Regions from separate parts of the Homo sapiens genome. Here regions 2, 3 and 4 are each linked to region 1. The links come from fine-mapping of genetic effects on gene expression. A gene starts in region 1. Each other region holds a variant in brackets. All regions are shown on one strand. Distances are from middle to middle.

Region 1 (5,639 bases):
ATTTTCATAAACCTTGAAGTGGGCACTGACGCTGTAAATGTAATCCTAAAATAATTTATCTTCCTTCAAAAATCTCTGCCATCGTGACTTTACATACCACACACAAAAAAGAATACCTGGAAATAATTCAAATGTATAACAACAAGTGTATGTCATACATAAGAATACTATACAGAGTTTAAAAAGAAAACTAGATCTACATTGTTAACATGAACGAATATTCAAAATGAATGTGTGAAAAATGCAAGCTGCAGAATACATGTAAGAGTATGACATCCACTGTGTAAAGTTTAAAAACACACAACAGACTACATATTATTTATGGATACATACATATGCAGAAAAGGTATAAAAGCATGTACACAAAGAATACACATCAACTTCAGAATAGTGGTTACCTATGTAGGGGATGGAGAATGTAAACAACGGGATGGATACAAACAAGCTTTAACTCTATCCATAATGTTCAATATTACAAAAATATTTGAAACAAATATGGCGTAACATTAACATTGTTAAATCTGGTGGTGTTACAGTAGACACCGATTATTCTCTGTACTTTTCAATTTTAATATATTTCATAATAAAAACAAAAACATTCACAGAATAAAAAAGATTGAATCACTGCTACCATTTTCAGATTAATCAGGCGTGCTAAAATACAATACACATTTTCTTTCCCAAATAAGACAATATTAACAGAAGATGTTACATACTTGGTAATGTACATTTTTATAAAGTATCCATTGATTACTATATTAAAAATACACAACAATTAAAGAGCAGGATTTAATGCTTCTACTTCAAAACCTCTACCTTTACTTGAGTCAAAGGATTTAATTTCACACCACAAACAGGCTTTCCTTGCTTTAAGAGTATCCCTTTGAATTTTGTTCTATGTCATTTCCTTTAAACGTGACTCAGAATAAAAGGTTTCATGTACAAGGTATAGAAGAGACTTGGCTAACTACAGTTAAATAATACTAATAAATACATCTTAGAATAAACCGACAGTGGCTCAATCCAAAAATGATAATTATCACCAGTACAAAAACTTTTTTTCAGTCTGAAACTTTTAACCTGCAAGAGAAATACACATGATCTTTGTTTACCAAACATGTTTTTTTCTTGTCAGGAAAGCTTTCCCACCTTTGTCAGATTAATACTTCCTTGATCACAGATGAAGTCTTTCAAATTAAAGATAAACAACTACTTGCCTGTTGTTTCTGATATGCAGTATTTGGATTTATCTTTGATTCCAAGAGTAGTGATCCTGAAAGATAAAAAATAATACATCATAAGTCTCAAATGATAAAACCCTGAATAAAAATTAGAATACACATTAAAGCCGGGCGCAGTGGCTCACGTCTGTAATCCTAGCACTTTGGGAGGCGGGCAGATCACGAGGTCAAGAGATCCAGACCATTCCAGCCAACATGGTGAAACCGTCTCTACTAAAAATACAAAAATTAGCTGGGCGTGGTGGCGCATGCCTGTAGTCCCAGGTACACGGGAGGGTGGGGCAGGAGAATCGCTTGAGAGAGAGGGAGAGGAGGCAGAGGTTGCAGTAGCCCAGATCGCGCCATTGAACTCCAGCCTGGCAACAGAGCAAGACTCTGTCTCCAAAAAAAAAAAAAAAAAAAAAAAAATACACATTTAAACCCCGCCCCCCGCCCCCGCAAACTTTTCAAGTCTTTTTACCGAGTTGGACATCTTAATAAAATGTATTCGAATTCACATTTTCTCTCCAAATCTAGGCTTCACATTTAATCTAAAATATTTCACCCTATTCCCATACACCCTTAAAGGAAAAATTAATCTAAAACCAACAATCAAACCAAGGAATGAGGAGACTAGATGACTATTAAAATTTTATTGAAATAAAAATTTTAAGGTCTAAATGACCACTTCAAGCCATTCGTTTTAACAAAAGTTGTTTTATTGCATTCCCAGTTTAACAAATAATGCAAATTACAAAACAAAAACATCATGACAGGGATTAAATACTTAGTATAGAAATTACAGTGCTGCATTTATCCTTTCCTCATTAAGAACAAAAGAACACCTTCTGTAGAAGTGATGACTATTTAAAATAAAAGGGAACAAGCAAGAATACAAAATATGTCAAGACTAAACCTAAGATTATTTTTCTAACTGCCTATATCAGTTGTTCAAATCAAGTCCAGATTATACTATAAAAGGCATTTTAATTACGGCTCTACATTTTGTAATTTAAAATACTTCACATGACTACAATAAACCAAAGAACACAGCAGTTTACAACCTGCTTTGGTGTCCCAACTTGCTTAGATTGTAAGGCATTCACTTTCTCATAGCGCCTTCTACAAAGGCAGCCCGAAGAAATGCAGACTACAGATGTATGTGCTTGTGTGTCCATGTATCGTGGCAACAGTCAGCAATACAGCCAGGAAAACGTGCCTTTCGGTTTTCCCCAGCACCTGTCGACTGTGGCACCTGGGGCCCGTTGGTACAATTTTTTTTTTTTAAAAACACTCGGAAAGAAAAGTTTCCCTAAACCGTTTGTACTAGACGTATAATGGATAAGTAAATAAAGGGGGAGGAAGGTGTCAGCTCCTAGGGCGACATCAGTACCTAGTCTCTCACTACTTCCTCCCTTCTCTCTCACACTCTCCCCTCTTCAAAAGAGGAGGGACTGGAAAGGAAGGAGTCCAATCCTTAAGAGAGATGGGAGAAGGACAGAGAGTCTCGGTCTCCGAGGATAAGTCCAGTCAAAAGTACAGTACTTTGTTTTTGCCGTACACAAGAGCCAGTTCAGAACCAACGCGCTGTCCCGAAGGAGTAGCAACGGTAACGGGCCCAGGGCCCTAAACCCAAGCTGTGCCCCAACCAGAGGCACTATCCCCTATTCTACAGTTCCGATAACCTTACCGTCGGACTCTGCCCGAACCAGCAGCGACATCCCCTTGAGCTCCTCCACGTAAGTGGAGGAGACGTGCCCGGTGCCTCGGTCGTCCCATTGCCGGTCTTCGTTCAGGGTATAGACCTTCACTCGCCGCCGCGTATCCGACATGGTGGCTGCTGTCTCCACCGCTCTAGCCGCCGCCTCCTCGCTTACCTCGTCCGCGCTCCTCACTCTTAGGAGACGGTAAAGGCAGTAGTGGCGGTGGCGGCGGCGGCGGCTTCGGAGAGGCCCGAATTCACCATGGCTCCAAAGGTTCAGCCGCGAGAAGGGGTGACAAGAGCCACTGAGGCCTCTCCGCCCGGAGGCCCCGTTACCTCTCACTTCACCCGCGCATACACCCACTCTCCCGTCTCTTTGCCCCCCAGGGCTCGCTTGCTCTCCCGCCGCCGCGGTAACTACTACAGATCCGCCATCTTGTAACCCGACTCTCTCTGCCTTTCTCTTCCTCCTCCAGCAGGCTCGCACGGGCTGTCCTAGCAGGGGCTACGGCGGCCGACAAGTCCCATGAGCAGCACCTCCGCTTCTGCACGCGCTTCCCAGGCCGGAATGCTCGGCGCTCTCGCGAGGAGGGGTACCGACTGGGGCGGGAGTACTTCGGCGAGACTTCCTCCTCTTTCGGCCCGACTTCCTCCTCTTTCGGCCCCGCCTCTTGGCGCGGGGTCGCAATTGGGCGGGAGGTTCTCGCGATCTCCCCGTCCACGCCTGCGCCGCGAGAGGCCGCTAGGTGGAAGGGGACTTCGGTTCCGCACGTCGTCATGTTGTTGGATGGCACCAGTATGTGACGTTCCTAGGAACTTAGCTCTGAGGAAAAAACAAAGCAAACCGGGGAAGTACGTAGCCTTGAACCGGAGTAACCAGGGACAGAAAGGAAGGAAAAGGGTTTCATACCTTCACGGAACGACGCTCACTTCGTCCGCCTGAGGAGGAAAAATAAGTTTAAACCTTTCTGTGAAAAAGAACGTGGAGCCCTTTCTGCCGAATGGAAACCCGCTAAACCCCGTTATGGAGTCTGCTACAATTAAGCATCTAACCAGGAATTGTCTATGGACACAACTCTCCAGGCAATTCATGCAGAAAGTGTGTTGACGATTTCCTGTTTCTTGCAGAGCGCTTCACCGTTAAGGCTCTTAGTAGCTGGCGATTGTAAAGCACATTTTCCGCTTCATGAAAATACAGTGCTCTTCTTGTGTTTGTAACCTTGGAAAGTAAGTCTGCTATGATAAGTTTAGGGAAGTGGCGGGGAGCTACTTTCCTAACATATCTGTGATTGTTTTGATACTTCTCAGTTTCTCGCGGGCATTTCCTGCGTTCTCTATAGGGCTCTCTTGCACTGAATAAGGAAAGGAGGAATTCTCTCTGCATTGAGGCTATTATCGCACATTGTGCGGTGGATATAGTCACGCGCTGGGTCGTAGTAGCGTGTCGTTTATTTCAGTCCAGCTCACTCTTGGTAGAATCCCTTTATTCGTTTTGTTGTTTTTGATAGTCTCTCTCTGCTTCCCAGGCTAGAGTGCAATGGCGCTATCTCGACTCACTGTAGCCTCCGCCTTGAGGGCTCAAGCGATCCTCTCACCTCAGCCTCCCGAGTAGCTGGGACCGTAGACGCCTGCTCCCCATCCCCGCTATATTCGTTCTTTAATACAGTCTCTCAGCTTGTTCAGCTGCCACTTCTGTGCAGCTCATTAGCCTGATCGGTGAAAACTAGGCGAGACGCGCACACTGACCCTGCAGTGCATCTTGGGAGTTGTAGTCATAACTAATCAATGGTCTTGTTAAAACGTGCTTATGTTTTGACCAGATCGCTTAAGTGTGGACACCCTTCAGCAGTACACTACAACGTGGGTCAGTGTACAGAACACATGCTGATAGAAATAATTTCAAAATCTGGATTCATAGTTTTTTTTTTTAATCTAGAGACCTCAGAAAATGTACTTGAAGAAAATCATCATAATATAATACATAACAATAGAGCCAATTAATTGATGTGATGAAAGTGGACAAAATGTATTTTGACCTCAGAGAAAATAACATTTCTGTCTTGGAAGAGTCAGAGAATGCTTCACACAATTTTTGAGCCTGATGTTAGACTCTCCAGCCTTCTGTCCAAGCCTCACCCTTTGGTTACTCCCCAGGAAGACTGAACTTGGGAAGAGGATTGTGCAGACCCTGGAGTCAGGCTTGGCGTTTGGGATAGGGAATACTAGAGTGCCCACAGCATGGTCTGGAAAAGGGAAAGTGGGCTGCAGGTGGCTACAGTCCCATGATTCCATGGATTTCAGACCCCTCCAAAGCACAGGGCTCAGTGCTTATCCAAGTCTGAGGGCCCCCCATAACCACATCTTCCCCAGCAGATGTTCTTTGCTTCAGGCAGTCATCAAAGTTCCACTTCAAAGAGTTGCTAACCAAATAAGCCCACAATCTTCCTTTTTTGTTGTTTTGAATAAGTAATGCCTTTACACATATGAAATTAAAAAGAGAGGCCGGGCATGGTGGCTCACGCCTGTAATCCCAGCACTTTGGGAGGGCGAGGTGGGCAGATTGCCCGAGGTCAGGAGATCCAGACCAGCCAGGCCAACGTGGTGAAACCCTGTCTCTGCTAAAAATACAAAAATCAGCTGGGCGTGGTGGTGGGGGCCTGTAATCCCAGCTACTTGGGAGGCCGAGGTAGGAGAATCGCTTCAACCTGGGAGGCAGA
Region 2 (5,639 bases), 65 kb before region 1:
TGAGCTTGTTTTCATCAATATACATATTGAAAATTCCTGGTGTAGAAAACTCAACATGTGCTGAATACGGGGTGTACTTCCCTTCAACTACCTAAAAGGCTGAACTTTTGTTAAATCTTAAAGAAATGGTCCCAACAGCTTAACTTCATTTTTTTAATGATAGTTGAATGTGTTTTCCATAAAAATTTCTTTTAAAAAGAGGCAACTGATTAAAACAACAACATGGCCAGCACCATTATACAAGTAATGTTATTGAGTTTACAACTGAAGTTCTGTAAAATTGTTTCTAGATCGACACCCCGAGGAGCAACCCTGCATTATTATATCAACCTTTTCCCCTCCCCTAAACCGTCCCCAAACCTGTGACTTTTCCTTGCTGAGAAGCTGTCTCCCAGGTTCTGGTTACTAATGTTTGTTTTGACAGCCTAAAAGGCAAACCCCTTAATTACTAGCAAGCAATCAAGTTCCTGGGAAGCCTGATTTTTATTAGAACTAAACTCTCTTAGCTGATATACTGTCTTTTGCTACTCCTTGTATATTTTATAAGTTCAATTGAGAAAGCTTTCTGATTCAGATTTTCAGCTCACTGAACAGTTGCAGCATTGTAAGACCACATGTTGAGGGTCCCCTAATAAATATTTTATGAGCCAAGACGAGGTCTTTTCCTGGGGGACGATTCTTCTTCTTCATCTTCCTCTTCATCATCTGGATAATCCACTAAGCCAACCAAACTTCCCTATTGAAGAATTTAAAAATTTTTTCTTTAAACATATATAACAAAAAAGAGCTTTTAGTACAAATACAATCACTTGTAAAAATATCAGAAATCGTTTTTCTAAATCATATCAGAAATTAACATTTGAATTTGATAAAGGAACTGCTTGAAATTATGAACGTTTGAGTAGTAATTGGTAGCACTTGCAGTAACCCTTAACTTTTCTATCTGGTTCTTGGATTATTAATGATACTTCAAAACTCAATTCTGCAAAATTTTACTGTGGGAAAATGTCTACTTTTCCAAACAGTAGGGATAACAATTAATAACATTTGGAAGCTGGAAAGGACATTGGAGATGAACTGGTTCATTTCTCTAATTTCATTACCACAAGAAAGCCCCTTGTAGTCTTTGTTCATCTTGTGTATATTTCATCACTAAGTACACATTATTTTCATTGTGCTTTTGAAGTACAGCTTAAATGGCTGGAGATAAACACATGAAATGATTCCTATAAAATAATAAGTAAAACATTTAGGGCTAGCTCGCTGACCAAAAGAACAATAAGGATGAGGTAATTCGTGGTCTTGGCCTTTGATGAGTAACAGACCTCTGTGAAAATCCTAGAAAAACTCTGGGTACTCTCCAGAAAATTACACATCCACAGGGTTTCATTCATTTTGAGCCAATCCCATGAAAACTTATGTCCTATAGGTTAAGAGGGCTACTGTAAACACTGTATTTAGTTCAAACCCTTCAGACCTCTAGGAGATAAAACAAATACAACTGAAGTAACTCATACTTCATACCTGAAGTACTGAGGTATCGGGTTTTACCAGAATGTAACCAAATCAGTATAATATTAACCAACCAAAAAAAGGCCTCTGGGCAGCTAGAAACAGTTATCAGAAAGACTTATATACCTGTCTGAGAATCTGTTTCTCAACTTAATCACACACACATCTTAAGTCTGGATATGCAAGAAGCAATATGGCTAAATTGTTAAAAATAGGCTAACTGTAGGTCTGATGTCAAATTCTAATGACACCACGTTTTATGTAAAAAAAAACAAAAACAAAAACAAAACTTTGGGGCTGGGCTTATGCCTGTAATCCCAGCACTTTGGGAGATCGAGGCGGATGGGTCACCTGAGAGATAATGAGTTCAAAACCAGCCTGGCCAACATAGCAAAACCCTATCTCTACCAAAAATACAAAAATTAGCCTGGCGTGATGGCAGGCACCTGTAGTCCCAGCTACTCGGGAGGCTGAGGGACGAGCATCTCTTGAACCCAGGAGGTGGAGATTGCACCACTGCACTCTAGCCTGGGCAACAGAGCAAGACTCCATCTCAAAACAAAAAGAAAAACAAAAAAAAACACAAAACCTTGGGCAAGTGGTTTAATACCTCTGCCTCAGTTTGTCTGTAAAATTGGTATAGTAGTATTTAGGCCTCAGTGAACTATTTTGAAATTTAAATTGATGGCCAGGCGCAGTGGCTCATGCCTGTAATCCTAGCATTTTGGGAGGCCAAGGTAGGTGGATCACCTGAGGTCAGGAGTTGGAGTCCAGCCTGACCAACATGGTGAAACCCCATCTCTACTAAAAATAAAAAAATTAGCCAGGAGTGGTGGCGCATGCCTGTAATCCCAGCTGCTTCAGAGGCTGAGGCAGGAGAATTGCTTGAACCCGGGAGGCAGAGGCTGCAGTGAGCCAAGATTGCACCACTGCACTCCAGCCTGGGCAACAAGAGCAAGACTCCATCTCAAAAATAAATAAATAAATAAATAAATAGATAACCAAACATCTAAAGCACTTCAGCACAGTGCTTCGTAT[GTAGT/G]TAGTGTTCAATAAGTGCTATTAGCTGCTATTACTACTATCATTTTTCTATTATTTTGTTTCTAAGCCAAACAAATTGGAAGAGAGGAAAAACAAGAAATAATTCTGGTATAAAAAGGCACCAATCTGATAATCAAAAAGATGACAGCAAAGTTACAAAGTTTTAATTATGCTTAGTATTACATATCATAACGTACAAACATTTGTATTCCAAATGGTTAACACTTAATTGTTTCTGCCCAAGATTAATAAATTGTCTGAAAAACTCACTTATACAATTTGAGTTTTACTTATATTATCTCTGCAAACTAACATACATTTAAAACATGTTTACAATAAAAATAATAAAAATGCAAAATATGAAATGTTGGAAGTAAAAAGGCCTGTAATCTAGAGATGCACTTTGTGAAGCTGATTCCATACTTTTAATATGTATCTAGAAATGTACTGTTTTAAAATAGCAGATTGAAATTATATTTACTCTTTTACAATCATGTTCATATAAAAAAAAGCTTTCGATGTCAGTACATAAAGTTCCATTTCATTGTTTTAAACCCTTGCATTCCATGGTATGAATATATATATATTTTTTAAGAGTCTTGCTCTGTCGCCTGAGCTAGAGTACAGTTGTGTGATCTCAGTTCACTGCAACCTCTGTCTCCAGGGTGCAAGCGATTCCTGTGCCTCAGCCACCCAAGTAGCTTGGGCTACATGCATGCACCACCATGCCTGGCTAACTTTTGTATTTTTAGTAGAGATGGGGTTTCACCATGTTGGCCAGGCTGGCCTTGAACTCCTGGCCTCAAGTGATCTGCCCACCTCAGACTCCCAAAGCCGAGCCACCATGCTCGGCTTCATCATATACTTTAATTCCTGAATTTCTGGTTGGACATTTGGGTTGTTTTTGCAGGGTATTTAGGTAAGAAATTTAAAAAGTGAATACCAGCAAAGAAAACAGGAGAAGAGAGAACAGCAGTTTAGAGTTGCCAAGGCATTTTTGGAAAAGAGAAATCAGAGGCAAGGCAAGTCATACAACAGGAAGAAGCCAAGAACTAAGTATTTGCAGAGGGATACAGAAACGAGAAACTGATTTGTCTTAAGAAAACCCCAGAAAGAAGCTAGGCAGTAAAGGCACCAAAATATTGGGGAAAGCAGGGAAAACAGTTTAATTATAGTAAAACAGACAACTGGGTCATTGATTCTACACCTCTGACAGCCAGGAGATTTCTGTTCCTCCACCATCACCAACTACAGAGAATTCTACATAGAAAATGACTCTATAAAGAATAAATTCTATAGAGAATGTAATGAACTTTACAGAGCAAAGGACCATATACTTCATGACTTTAGGCAAAGTAAAGGGCATGGGTAAGGCCAGGCTGAAAATGAAAGAATAAATTTAAATTTTGTATACTGAGCAGACACGCCTACCCCACAATAAGCTTTGCTATGTAGGCACTCAGAACACTAACAACCATTCTTATACTTACAAGGTGTAAGAGACTAGCTTTGTCTGTAAAAATTAGATGGCTTCACAGGAGTATGGGGGGAACTACAAACAACTAACACCTCCCGAAAAAAGCAGGGCACTACTCTCTAAGTCCATACCATAAAGTCAAGTTTTTAAAGTGTATAATTTTCACACACCATAAACTCACCATTTCAGAGCATATAATTCAGTGGTTTTAGTATATTCACAAGTTACGTAATCACCACCAATTCCAGAACATTTCCACCATTTCACCCACCAAAAAAAGTCCCCATAAACAGTCCTCATTCCCCCACCACCCCCCACACCACCCAGCTCTTGGCAACCACTAACCTACTTTGTTTCTGCGGATTTGCTTATTCTGGACAGTTCATATAAATGGAATCATACAATATGTGGTCTTTTGTGACTGGTTTACTTCAATTACCACAATGTTTTCAAAGTTAATCTATGCTTAGCATATCAGGACTTCATTCTTTTTTATGGCCAAATAATATCCACTGTATGAATATGCTACATTTTGTGTATCCATTCATCAGCTGAGAGACATTTGGGTTATTCTTACTTTTTGGCTATTATGAAAAATACTGCTATTAACATTCATATACAAGTTTTACAGTGGACACATGTTTTCAATTTTCTTACAATATATACCTAGGAAATGAGGTAGCTGGGTCATATGGTAACTCTGGGTCATATGGTACTCTGACTTTTTGGGGAACCGCCAGACTGTACTCCAAAGCTGCTACACCATTTTATTTTTATATATTTATTTTTTGAGACATTGTCTTAGAGACTCGAAAGTGCAGTGATGTGATCTCGGCTTATTGCAACCTCTGCCCGCTGGGCTCAAGTGATACTCCCACCTCAGCCTCCCGAATAGCTGGGACCACAGGCATGTGCCACCATGTCCAGCTAATTTTTGTAGACGGGGTTTTGCCATTTTGCCCAGGCTGGTCTCGAGCTCCTGGGCTCAAGCGATGCTCCTGCCTCGGCCTCCCAAAATGCTGGGATTACAGGCATAAGCCTATGCACCAGGCCTGTTGTGCTATTTTATATTCTCACTAGCAATGGGTGTCACAATTTACATTCTTACCAACACTTGTTTTTGTGCATCTTTTTTATTATAGCTATCCTAGAGGATGTGAAATGCTATCATATTGTGATTTTGACTTGCATTTCCCTTACTAATGATGCTAAACATCTTTCCACATGTTTATATGGGCCACTTGTGTATCTTCTTTGCAGAAATGTCTGTTAAAATCCTTTGTCCATTTTAAAACGGGGTTGTCATGCTGAGGTGTAAGAGTTCTTTATATATTCTGGATACCAGTTACTTATCAGATATATCATTTACAAATATTTCCTCCCATTTTGTGGATTGTCTTTTCAATTTATGGTAGTATCCTTTGGAGTACAAAATTTTTGAATTTTGAATGAGTCCAATTTATTATTTTTCTTTTGTCACTTGAGCTATTTGTGTCATATCTAAGAAATCACTGCCTAAATCCAAGGTCATAGATATTTATGCCTTTTTTTAAAAAAGAGTTTTAGACTTTTAACTTTTACATTTGGATCTTTTCATCCATTTTGAGAG
Region 3 (5,639 bases), 24 kb after region 1:
GTATCCCTTCAGATGTCTACTTAGTGTATGTGTACGGCATTTATAAAAATGGACCCTCTGTGCTTACTGTATATCTTAAGGACATCTTTTTTTTTTTTTGAGATGGAGTCTCGCTCTGTCATCCGGGCTGGAGTACAGTAGCATGATATCCGCTCACTGCAACCTCTTCCTCCCAGGTTCAAGAGATTCTCCTGCCTCAGCCTCCAGAGTAGCTGGGATTACAGGTGCACGCCATCATGCCCAGCTAATTTTTTCTATGTTTAGTAGACACGGGGGTTTGCCATGTTGGCCATGCTGGTCTCAAACTCCTGACCTAAAGTGATCCGTCCACCTTGGCCTCCCAAAGTGCTGGGCTTACAGGCGTGAGCCACTGCACCTGGCCCAAGGACATCTTTTCATATCAATAAATTAAGAATTACCGTTAAGTTTCAAACTATATAGTTTATTTAAACAATCACCTAAAGACAATAAATTGCTTTAAATTCCAGTGTTGCAAATGTTAATGACTGATGAATATAGGAGAAAGATATATGAGGGTTTAGTGTATCATTCTTTCAACTTCTTTGTACATTAAAAACTTTTCAAAATAATAAGGTGAAAAAAAATAAGTTGCAGTGTAGCACAAATCATGAATTCATCTACTCTAATTATCCTCTCCAAATAAAATCCTACAATGTCTAGGTCCATAGACATTTACCAAACACCCTCTAAAAAGTTTGTCCCAATTCACACCCCCATCAACAGTGTATGAAAATGTCCATCTTTTCTCTTATACACACTGAGAATTTTAAACTATCTGAAAGTTAAAACTGATATCTTAATTTCATTTGCATTTCAAAAATTGCTGTTGATATTAAATATCTTGGTTGGCTTTTTATAAAAATAATTTGTTCATGTTCTTTACTTATTTTTCTATTGATATTCATCATTCTTACGGATTTATAAAAGCCCTTTGTAAATTAAGCTTCTGCATATAAGCATTTTTACTTTAGGTTGCTGATTATCTCTTAACCTTATTGAAATTTTTGCCATATAATTAAAAAATTATGGGGTCAAATTTTGTAAGTTTATTTACTTTTTTGGCTTTGATATCATGTTGAGGAGTTCTCCACTACTAATCTTATTAAAACATCCAATTTTCTTCTAGTAAACCCTCCTGCCCCAACAAGATTATCTTTTCCTACCACCTTTTTTAAAAAGCACATTTAGCTCTTTGATCCAGACAGGATTTAGGTATAAAAATGAGTAGAGATCCTGTTTTAAGATAACCAGCTGTACCAATATAATTTATTAAATAATCTTTATTCACTGACTATAATACAACTTCTAGCGTATATTATAATCCCATGTATATTATTTCTAGTTTTTGTTTTCTTGTTGCATGGATTATCTATTTCTGGGCCGGTAATATACTATTTTATTGTCTATGGCTTTATAATATATTTTAATATATGGTAAAACAGACACTCTTTTTTTTTTGAGACAAAGTCTCACTCTGTCGCCAGACTGGAGTGCAGTGGCACAATCTTGGCTCACCGCATCCTCCGCCTCCCGGGTTCAAGCGATTCTCCTTCCTCAGCCTCCCGAGTAGCTAAGACTACATGCGCACGCCACCACGCCCAGCTAATTTTTGTATTTTTAGTACACACTGGGTTTCACCATGTTGGTCAGGATGGTCTCCATTTCTTGACCTTGTGATTCACCCGCCTCGGACTTCCAGAGTGCTGGGATTACAGGCATGAGCCACCCTGCCCAGCCAATTTTTCTTTATGCTAAACAATGTAAAACTTTTTGCCAGCAGCATCTCTGCCACTTGTTTTCTCTGTTTAGGCTAGTAGTAGGCAAAGTGTATAATTCTTACCAACCTAGGTAATTTCAATACAGTGTTTCAAGGCAGTTATAAAAATAATAACAATAACATCTGTCTTTTTACCTTTCGTTGATCAAGTTGTGTGTTATGAAGCAGTACCGCAGTCATATTTGGATATAATTTTACCATTACACCAGTATCTCTACAAAAAAATAAATAGTAAGCCTGGTTAAAATAATAAGTATCTGTATATCCATTGACAAATAAAACATTGTTTTCATATGAGGAAAAAGTAAAAAACGAAAAGAAACAATTCTAGCACGTTTTTAGAACTATAAAAAGTATACTTTTCAACTGAAAATATACCCTATAAATAAATATGTGTGAATCAAAGAATGAAGAAAAGATAAAGAAAAAACATGCAATAGAAAAGCTTTTAGAGCCAGGTGCGGTGGCTCACACCTGTAATCCCAGCACTTTGGGAGGCCAAGGTGAGCAGATCACGAGGTCAAGAGATCAACTCCACCCTGGCCAACATGGTGAAACCCCGTCTCTACTAAAAATATAAAAATTAGCTGGGCCTGGTGGCGCGCACCTGTAATCCCAGCTACTCAGGAGGGTGAGGCAGGAGAATTGTTTGAACCCGAAAGGCGGAGGTGGCAGTGAGCCGAGATCGTGCCACTACACTCCAACCTGGCAACAGAGTGAGACTCCGTCTCAACAAAAAAAACTTTTAGAATATATGTTCTTCTGTATTTCTCTTAACAATTTCCAAAAACATTTTTTTTTTTTTTTTTTTTTGCCACCCAGGCTGGAGTGCAGTGGTGCCATCTGGGCTCACTGCAACCTCCGCCTCCCAGGTTCAAGTCATTCTCATGCCTCAGTCTCCCAAGCAGCTGGGATTACAGGCATGTGCCACCATGACCAGCTAATTTTTGTATTTTTAGTAGAGATGGGGTTTCACGAAGTTGGCCAGGCTGGTCTCGATTTTCCAAAAATTTTCGAAATGACATTAAATATTTTAAAAATAGTATAGAATCTCATATGATTAACCTGTAAGGTAAGGATTTAAGGAAGGTGGTCAGGTAAAATGGAATACTTATTTCATTAAAAAACTAATCTTCCCTTTTTTCTCTAATCTATGAAAATAAGCCATCCCATTTCTTATTTTTCACCTGCAATATTAAACAAATTATCTCCTTGCCTTTTATTTTATTTCAAATAGCTTTGAACATTTTTGCTACATTTGATAATTTCCTTTTTCTTAAAAGAGGGATTTTCTTATCCTAAAAAAACAAGCTCTTCTAGCTGGTCAAAAAAAATGCTTTGAGA[C/G]TGAAATTGGCTTTTTTTTTTTTTGAGATGGAGTCTCGCTCTGTCGCCCAGGCTGGAGTGCAGTGGTGCGATCTCATCTCACTGCAACCTCTGCCTCCCGGCTTCAAGCGATTCTCCTGCCTCAGCCTCCTGAGTAGCTGGGATTACAGGCATGCACCACCATGCCTGGCTAACTTTTGTATTTTTAGTAGACATGGGGTTTCACCATGTTGGTCAGGCTGCTCTCGAACCCCCCACTTCCTGATCCACCTGCCTTGGCCTCCCAAAGAGCTGGGATTACAGGCGTGAGCCACCATGCACAGCCGAAATTGGATTTAAAAATATGTGCCAATTAAGCATTCAGATATGTTTAAAATAAGCCATCAAAAGAAAAAAAAAGAAATAAAGAAATATTGCTAAGTCTATTTTGGGCCTATTTAATATTTACTGGGAAAATTAATTTGGGGTTTCACCAATTACTAGTAGAAAATTTGGTTAAAGAATTCAGTTGGCCGGGCGCGGTGGCTCAAGCCTGTAATCCCAGTACTTTGGGAGGCCGAGGGGGGCGGATCACAAGGTCAGGAGATCGAGACCATCCTGGCTAACAAGGTAAAACCCCGTCTCTACTAAAAATACAAAAAATAATTAGCTAGGCGTGGTGGCGGGCACCTGCAGTCCCAGCTACCGGGGAGGATGAGGCAGAATGGCGTGAACCCGGGAGGCAGAGCTTGCAGTGAGCTGAGATCGCACCACTGCACTCCAGCCTGGGTGACAGAGCGAGACTCTGTCCCAAAAAAAAAAAAAAAAAAAAAAAAGAATTCAGTTAAGAGAACCTATCATAATTAGAACCACAGAACTGCTACTTTAATTTTATAAAATGATATAGAAAACAAAATATACTATACCTTAAAAAATAATGATTATATGGCAATTGGCATGTAATCTAAACACCTTATGATTTCAAAGTAAATGTAAAATTAAATTGGGATTATAATAGGAATCTGTTAAAAACCAAAACAGGGCTGGGCACGGTGGCTCATGCCTGTAATCCTGGCACTTTGGGAGGCTGAGGCAGGAGGATGGCTTGAGGCCAGGAGTTTAAGACCAACCTGGGCAACATAGTGAGACCATGTCTTTACAAAAAAATTAAAAAATCAGCCACGTGTGGTGGTGTGTGCTTGTAGTCCTAAATAGGAGGCTGAGGTGGGAGAACTGCCTGATCCCAGGAGTTCAAGGCAGCTGTGAGGTACAATGGCACCACTGTATCCCACTGTGGGTGGCAGGGTGAGACCCTGTCTCTAAAGAAAGGAAAATGCTCAGCATAGTATATTACTTGATATTACCTGATTTCAGTTATTGTGGCGGTATATACTGCTCCAAATTCTAATTGCTGCTCCTGCTGTAAGTGCAAAATAAGCCATAAGATTCATAAAGAAAACATCAACAAAAAGTAGAAAAAACAAATATAGCTATATGATACGTAATTAATATGATCTATACTTACATCATCCTTGCAGATTTCAGTAATGAAGTCTCTTGCCTCATGCATAGCACTGGGTGTTGGTGCAAATACAGAAAACGTTTCTTCATCCACCTGACTAATAGTTACACCTTTTAAAAACAAAATGTAACATATTAAAGTTAACTTGGCTGGGCATAGTGGGTCACATCTGTAATCCCAGCACTCTGGGGGGCTGAGGTGGGAGGATCACTTGAGCTCAGGAGTTCAAGGCCAGCCTGGGCAACATAGGGAGAGCCTGTTACTACAAAAAATAAATTCAAAAATTAGCTGGACCTGGTAGCATGTGCCCACCTACTTGGGACTCACAGTCGGGAGGATCACTTGATCCCAGGGGTCAAGGCTGGAGTTAGCTGTGATTGTGTACTGCACTCCAGTCTGGGTGACAGAGCAAGGCCCCATCTCAAAAAAAAAAAAAGTTAACTTGCTCATTCCAGTGGAAACTCGTCTTAAAAATAGATGTGAGAATAGGAGGGACCTATTAGTAGCTGGGTGGAGTTATGCTGTATTTAATCATTACTTTAGGAATGAAGGAATTCATTCATCAACAAATACACTCTGCATACTTGCTAGGTACCTGGCATTATACTAGGTAGGCCCTGGGGATACAATGGTGAGCCAATATGCTTGATTTCTTGAAATTCACCATCTAGTGAAATCAAATATATCTATACAAATTTTGGAGAGTCTGGTTCTGCTCTCTTAATTACGAGTAGAAACTATAATAGAACCCTTTCCTTACTTTTTTTCTTTCTCCCGCTTACTCTTACGAGGGGTGAATAAATGAATAAGGGACAAAATCACATCAGTTTCTCAGTGTTAGCAAATGGCTAAGGTGACAGTGCTTCTCACTCTCTTGCAGTAACCTCAAACCTTGAAGTACGAGGTAATTCAAACATTGCTTCAGGAAAAATAAATTAAAGCTTTTTTTTATATACTCTTTAAATAAAAGAGTTAAAATAAAACTAAGTGAAAGTAGCAGAATAAAAAGAAATAACT
Region 4 (5,639 bases), 32 kb after region 1:
GAACTCCTGGGGCTCAAGCAATCTTCCTGCCTTGGCCTCCCAAAGTGCTAGGATGAGCCACCATGCCATGCCTGGCTACTTAGTACTTCTTTTTTTTTGAGACATTTTCCCTCTGTCACCCAGGCTGGCGCGCAATGGCATGATCTCGGCTCACTGTAACCTCTGCCTCCTGGGCTCAAGCGATTCTCTTGTCTCAGCCTCCTGAGTAGCTGGGATTACAGGTATGCACCACCATGCCCGGCTAATTTTTGTACTTTTAGTAGAGACAGGGTTTCACCATGTTGGCCAGGCTGGTCTCGAACTCCTGACCTGAAGTGATCTGCCTGCCTCGGCCTCTCAAAGTGCTGGGATTACAGACATGAGCCACCACACCTGGCCAGTACTTCTTGATCTAAGTTATATGAAATTCCACTTTTTAAAGCAATATTTTATAATAAGCCTAATGAGAACTATAGTTCCCATTAGCAAAGTGGAAAAGAATGAAGGGAGAATCAAGCACACTAGCTCACCTGAAGCTTGTTGAATAGCCTCCATCACAATTTTTATTGGTATTCCAGGTAATTTAATATCAGCCTAATATGGAAAAGTCAAACAATTATATAAATATTGACTCATGGCATTATTTAAATGTTACAAAAATGAAACAAAATGGGTTTTAAAAATACCTGTAATGCAGTTATTCCTTTATTAGTGCCAGCTATTTTGAAGTCCATGTCACCATTGTAATCTTCAATTCCCTTCAGGAATTTAAAAAGTTATGACATAGTTTTAAACAAAAACAAAAGTCAACATATTCACTGTAGAAACATTTCAAAAAACAGCTTTAGAAGTAAACCATATCCTAAGTCCAAACACAAAGCAATGTTTTCTACATTAACTACCACTTCCAATTTGTGACTTTTTAAGCTACAATTATTTTCACCAGAAACATCATTTTATTTTTAGATCATTCCTTTCCCTCATAAATGCCTGAGAATGAATTTATGCTCATCCTAAAGTGAGTCATTATGAATACTTACACTGTGTAAGTATTACTGCAATACTTAAGGGTAAGTATTACTATTTTTTTAAAGTAATCATTTTATTTTATTTTATTTTACTTATTTTGAGACACAGTCTTGCTCTGTTGCCCAGGATGGAGTGCAGTGGCACGATCTTGGCTCACTGCAACCTCTGCCTCCCGGGTTCAAGCAATTCTGCCTCAGCCTGCCAAGTAGATGGGATTACAGGTGTGTGCCACCATGCCCAGGCTAATTTTTGTATTTTTAGTAGAGATGGAGTTTTGCCACATTAGCCAGACTGGTCTGGAACTCCTGACTTCCCAAAGTGCTGGGATTACAGGCATGAGTCACTGTGCCTGGCCTATTACTATTAATATAATATCTATTTTAAATTCATATCCTATAAGATACAAGGTGAACATGCAGAGGAGGAAGGGAAGAACAAGTACCTGTTCTTCAAATACTAGCATTCTTCTAAGCATACGCTAGGTGCAAAGTACATATAGTCTTCACCATTATTTGTTTTTATCTTTTAATTTTTATTTATTTATTTTTAGTCTTCATTATTAAATATTTGAAACCGAGAATATACTTGCCAAAATATCTGTCAGCAAACGATAATCTTCTATTTCACCCTTCTCAGGATCGGTTTTGGTGACCAATCCTATTGCTACGCCTGCAACAGCAGATGAAATTGGAACCCCTATAATTGGGAAAAAGAACAACTGTGGGTAATGTGTACATGAGCCTAAAACAAATATTTATCTATCAATTTTTTTTTTTTTTTGAGAGGGAGTCTCGGTCTGTTGCCCAGACTGGAGTGCAGTGGCATGATCTTGGCTCACTGTAGCCTCTGCTTCCTGGGTTCAAGCAATCCTCCCACCTCAGCCTCCCCTATAGCTGGGATTATAGGCACCCGCCAACACGCCTAGCTAATTTGCTTGTATTTTTAGTGGAGATGGGGTTTCAACCATGTTGGCCCTGTTGGTCTTGAACTCCTGACCTCAGGTGATCTGCCAGCCTCAGCCTCCCAAAGCGCTGGGATTACAAGCGTGAGCCACCGCGCCCAGCAGACATTTACTTTTAATGTAAGTGGATATTGTTGCCTAAATTGACAATCACCGAAGCTGAGTTGGAAGTCTTAAGAGGTCATCTGACTACTTCGTTTGTTTTTGAACATATAATAAAGTTCCCTAAAACAATGTAAACAAGTACTATATCCAGCAAAAACTTCTCTAACAATAGCAAACTTTATAACTTTTAAATTATCCGTTGGTTTGCTTTTTTGCTTCAGGTGTCTTATTTTCTTTTTGTTGGAAAGTAAGCATCTATTTGGTAAATTCTTCCAGCCTGAACTCCTCAGTTTACCTCCCCATGGCAGCTAACATTAGTGTATCCTCCTAGAAAATTTCTGTGCACAAGTATAAATGTAAATATAATCTTTTGTTTTCTTTACTCGTGGCGGCAGACTGTATGCATTTACTGTTCTGCACCTTGCCTTTTTCACTTAATAACATGTCTTGGATATTGACACATACCACCACACAAAGCTCTACTTTATTCCTTTGAATAGTTTTAGTACTCCCTGTATGTTTTACAAGTCACACACAGAAGTGCGATTGCTGAGTCAAAAGGTATG[T/A]GCATTTACGTTTGTTAGACTGTCAAACTGCCTTCTAAAGACATAGCATTTTAAACTTTTACCAGTGGTGTAAGAAGGTATATGCTACTCTATATTCTTATTAATTCTTGTCAAATCTTTTGATTTTTCTCAATTTAAAGTGTAAAAAATGGTTATTTTAAATCTGACTTGTTTTTTATGACTGAGGTTGAAAACTATTTCATGTTCATAAACCTATTTATATGTCTTATTTTGAGAACTCCCTGTTCATGGCCTTCAACACTTTTCTACTTGGTTGGCAGTCTTTTTATTACTGATTTTCTTTCAATATGGACAGAGCTTTATTAAAATGTAAAGATAAAATATTATGTTTAATAACATATAAATAAAATATTTTATTTCCTAGTTCGTTGACTTTGCTTATGGTCATTAGTTTTCTGTGTAGGATTTTTAGTTTACGTAATCATGGTTTCTGGGTTTTGCTTAGCAGAGCTTTTCTTCTCCAAGATTTTGATAAAACCTACCATCTTTCATTTGTTTAAAAATGTTTAAGTTTTGATCACTTGGAATTTACTTTGGTATAAAGGAGTGTGGATCTCATTTCATTTTCTCTAAGCAACCTCATCTATACTTACGATTTTAACCACCATCTATAATGTTGATGACTTAAAAATCTATCCCTCCTGTCCAGCTATCTGTGCCAAACCCTGGACCTGTATTAGTAAACTCCCTGTCAGACATCTCCAGCTAAATGTCCCCAAAGCACCTTAAATATATATTCAAAATTGAGCCAGGCCCAGTGGCTCATGCTTGTAATCCCAACGCTTTGGCAGGCCAAGATGGGAGGATCACTTGAACTCAGGAATTTGAGACCAGCCTGGGCAATATATTGAGACCTCATCTCTATAAATAATAATAATGATGATGATGAAAGAAATACATATATGTTCAAAATTGAATCACTGTCAAAAAATCCTTTTCCTCCTGCATTCTTTGGTTGAAAGCAACTAAGACACTCATGCCAGAATCAACATTTCTTTCCTCATTTCCTATATCCCATCAAGTCACAAAGATCTGTTTATTTTTTTAGAAAGCTGTCCTTTACCCTAAATATTAAAATACCTATTGTAACTTTTTAGTCTGAGTCCATATCATTTCTTGCCCTGGCAACAATCTCCCTGTCTGGCTTCCCAGATTTTACTTTCTCTCTTTGCTTCTTAGTCTCTCCCATCTCATTCCGCAGGGCTATTCATCACTTAAGCTGGGAAAAACTGTTTGGAAAAAACAAAAGCAGATTCAAATCATGCCACTGTTTTCCATAAAATCCTTCAAGTTCCCCATTGCCTACTTTCAGGAAATTTTTGTACATATTCTGTGGTCAAATAAATTTGGAAAAATATTACATGTCCTATTCCTAGAGAGTCAGTATTCGGATTAGCTTATTAAAGTCTATTTAATCCATATTAAATAAACCTGCTTAACCCTGCTGAAACTTAACTTTAGAACAGAATAAACTTTTTCATGGTATACAATAATCAATGTCCTGTGGAACACTATTCCATGGAATACTGAATTGGAAAAATGCTGGCTTTAAGTCCAAACTCCTTAGCGTAACAATAACCTTCAGATTGTACAATGTGTGGCTTTCTTGAGGCACTGCCTCTCGAGTCCCTACCTCAAACTCCACTTCAAATAGGAGATTTTATGTTGGGGAAAGAAGGATTGGTAAAGAATTCTTACTTAAAAAAAATCCTGCCCTCTCTCCCTCTCTCCACCTCTACCTCTACCTCTACCTCTACCTCTACCCACGGTCTCCCTCTCCCTCTCTCCATGGTTTCCCTCTGATGCCGAGCTGAAGCTGGACGGTACTGCTGCCTGATTCTCCTGCCTCAGCCTGCCGACTGCCTGCGATTGCAGGCGCGCGCCGCCACGCCTGACTGGTTTTCGTATTTTTTTGGTGGAGACGGGGTTTCGCTGTGTTGGCTGGGCTGGTCTCCAGCTCCTAACTGCGAGTGATCCGCTAGCCTCGGCATCCTGAGGTGCCGGGATTGCAGACGGAGTCTCGTTCACTCCATGCTCAATGGTGCCCAGGCTGGAGTGCAGTGGCGTGATCTCAGCTCGCTACAACCTTCACCTCCCAGCAGCCTGCCTTGGCCTCCCAAAGTGCCGAGATTGCAGCCTCTGCCCGGCCGCCACCCCGTCTAGGAAGTGAGGAGCGCCTCTTCCCGGCCGCCATCCCATCTGGGAAGTGAGGAGCGTCTCTGCCCGGCCGCCCATCGTCTGAGATGTGGGGAGCACCTCTGCCCTGCCGCCCCGTCCGGGATGTGAGGAGCGTCTCTGCCCGGCCGCCCCGTCTGAGAAGTGAGGAGACCCTCCGCCCGGCAACCGCCCAGTCTGAGAAGTGAGGAGCCCCTCCGCCCGGCAGCCGCGCCGTCTGAGAAGTGAGAAGCCCCTCCGCCCAGCAGCCACCCCGTCTGGGAAGTGAGGAGCGTCTCTGCCCGGCAGCCACCTCGTCCGGCAGGGAGGTGGGGGGGTCAGCCCCCCGCCCGGCCAGCCGCCCCGTCCGGGAGGGAGGTGGGGGGATCAGCCCCCCGCCCGGCCAGCCGCCCCGTCCGGGAGGTGAGGGGCGCCTCTGCCCGGCCGCCCCTACTGGGAAGTGAGGAGCCCCTCTGCCTGGCCGGCCGCCCCGTCCAGGAGGGAGGTGGGGGGGTCAGCCCCCCCGCCCAGCCAGCCGCCCCGTCCGGGAGGTGAGGGGCGCCTCTGCCCGGCCGCCCCTACTGGGAAGTGAGGAGCCCCTCTGCCCGGCCAGCCGCCCCGTCTGGGAGGTGAGGGGCGCCTCTGCCCGGCCGCCCCTACTGGGAAGTGAGGAGCCCCTCTGCCCGGCCACCACCCCGTCTGGGAGGTGTGCCCAACAGCTCATTGAGAACGGGCCATGATGACAATGGCGGTTTTGTGGAATAGAAAGGGGGGAAAGGTGGGGAAAAGATTGAGAAATCGGATGGTTGCCGTGTCTGTGTAGA

Which allele goes with the higher level. Alleles are on the strand shown, and positions count from the first base shown. SD is a standard deviation of normalised expression in the study named. Not every link is listed here.
With allele C in place of G in region 3, the expression in putamen of the gene that starts at base 3,389 in region 1 is higher (small effect, 0.33 SD a copy in GTEx).

The links. PIP is the estimated chance that this variant, and not a neighbour inherited with it, causes the effect.
Region 2: its variant is the best candidate, but not a certain one, in a credible set for the expression of PPP4R3B in whole blood (TOPMed, PIP 0.57).
Region 3: its variant is the best candidate, but not a certain one, in a credible set for the expression of PPP4R3B in putamen (GTEx, PIP 0.63).
Region 4: its variant is the best candidate, but not a certain one, in a credible set for the expression of PPP4R3B in whole blood (INTERVAL, PIP 0.57).

What each region holds. Positions count from the first base shown.
Region 1 is chr2:55,614,234-55,619,872 of GRCh38, forward strand. It overlaps PPP4R3B (protein phosphatase 4 regulatory subunit 3B), which reads right to left and starts at 3,389. Exons shown (of 17, transcript NM_001122964.3): 1 at 2,911-3,389; 2 at 1,218-1,273. The coding sequence starts at 3,052. PPP4R3B-DT (PPP4R3B divergent transcript) reads left to right here and starts at 3,697. Exons shown (of 3, transcript NR_186624.1): 1 at 3,697-4,149. RefSeq lists enhancers at 2,345-3,271, 3,272-4,196, 3,290-3,689, 3,710-3,759.
Region 2 is chr2:55,549,271-55,554,909 of GRCh38, forward strand. It overlaps PPP4R3B (protein phosphatase 4 regulatory subunit 3B), which reads right to left. Exons shown (of 17, transcript NM_001122964.3): 17 at 1-736. The coding sequence ends at 641. Among named protein-coding and RNA genes, the nearest start is that of CFAP36, 32 kb to the left of the region's middle. The variant GTAGT/G (reference allele first, on the strand shown) is at 2,551.
Region 3 is chr2:55,638,694-55,644,332 of GRCh38, forward strand. It overlaps PNPT1 (polyribonucleotide nucleotidyltransferase 1), which reads right to left. Exons shown (of 28, transcript NM_033109.5): 24 at 4,626-4,732; 25 at 4,465-4,520; 26 at 1,934-2,012. Among named protein-coding and RNA genes, the nearest start is that of PPP4R3B-DT, 24 kb to the left of the region's middle. The variant C/G (reference allele first, on the strand shown) is at 3,143.
Region 4 is chr2:55,645,750-55,651,388 of GRCh38, forward strand. PNPT1 (polyribonucleotide nucleotidyltransferase 1) reads right to left here. Exons shown (of 28, transcript NM_033109.5): 19 at 1,598-1,704; 20 at 666-737; 21 at 510-573. Among named protein-coding and RNA genes, the nearest start is that of PPP4R3B-DT, 31 kb to the left of the region's middle. RefSeq lists an enhancer at 4,310-4,922. The variant T/A (reference allele first, on the strand shown) is at 2,641.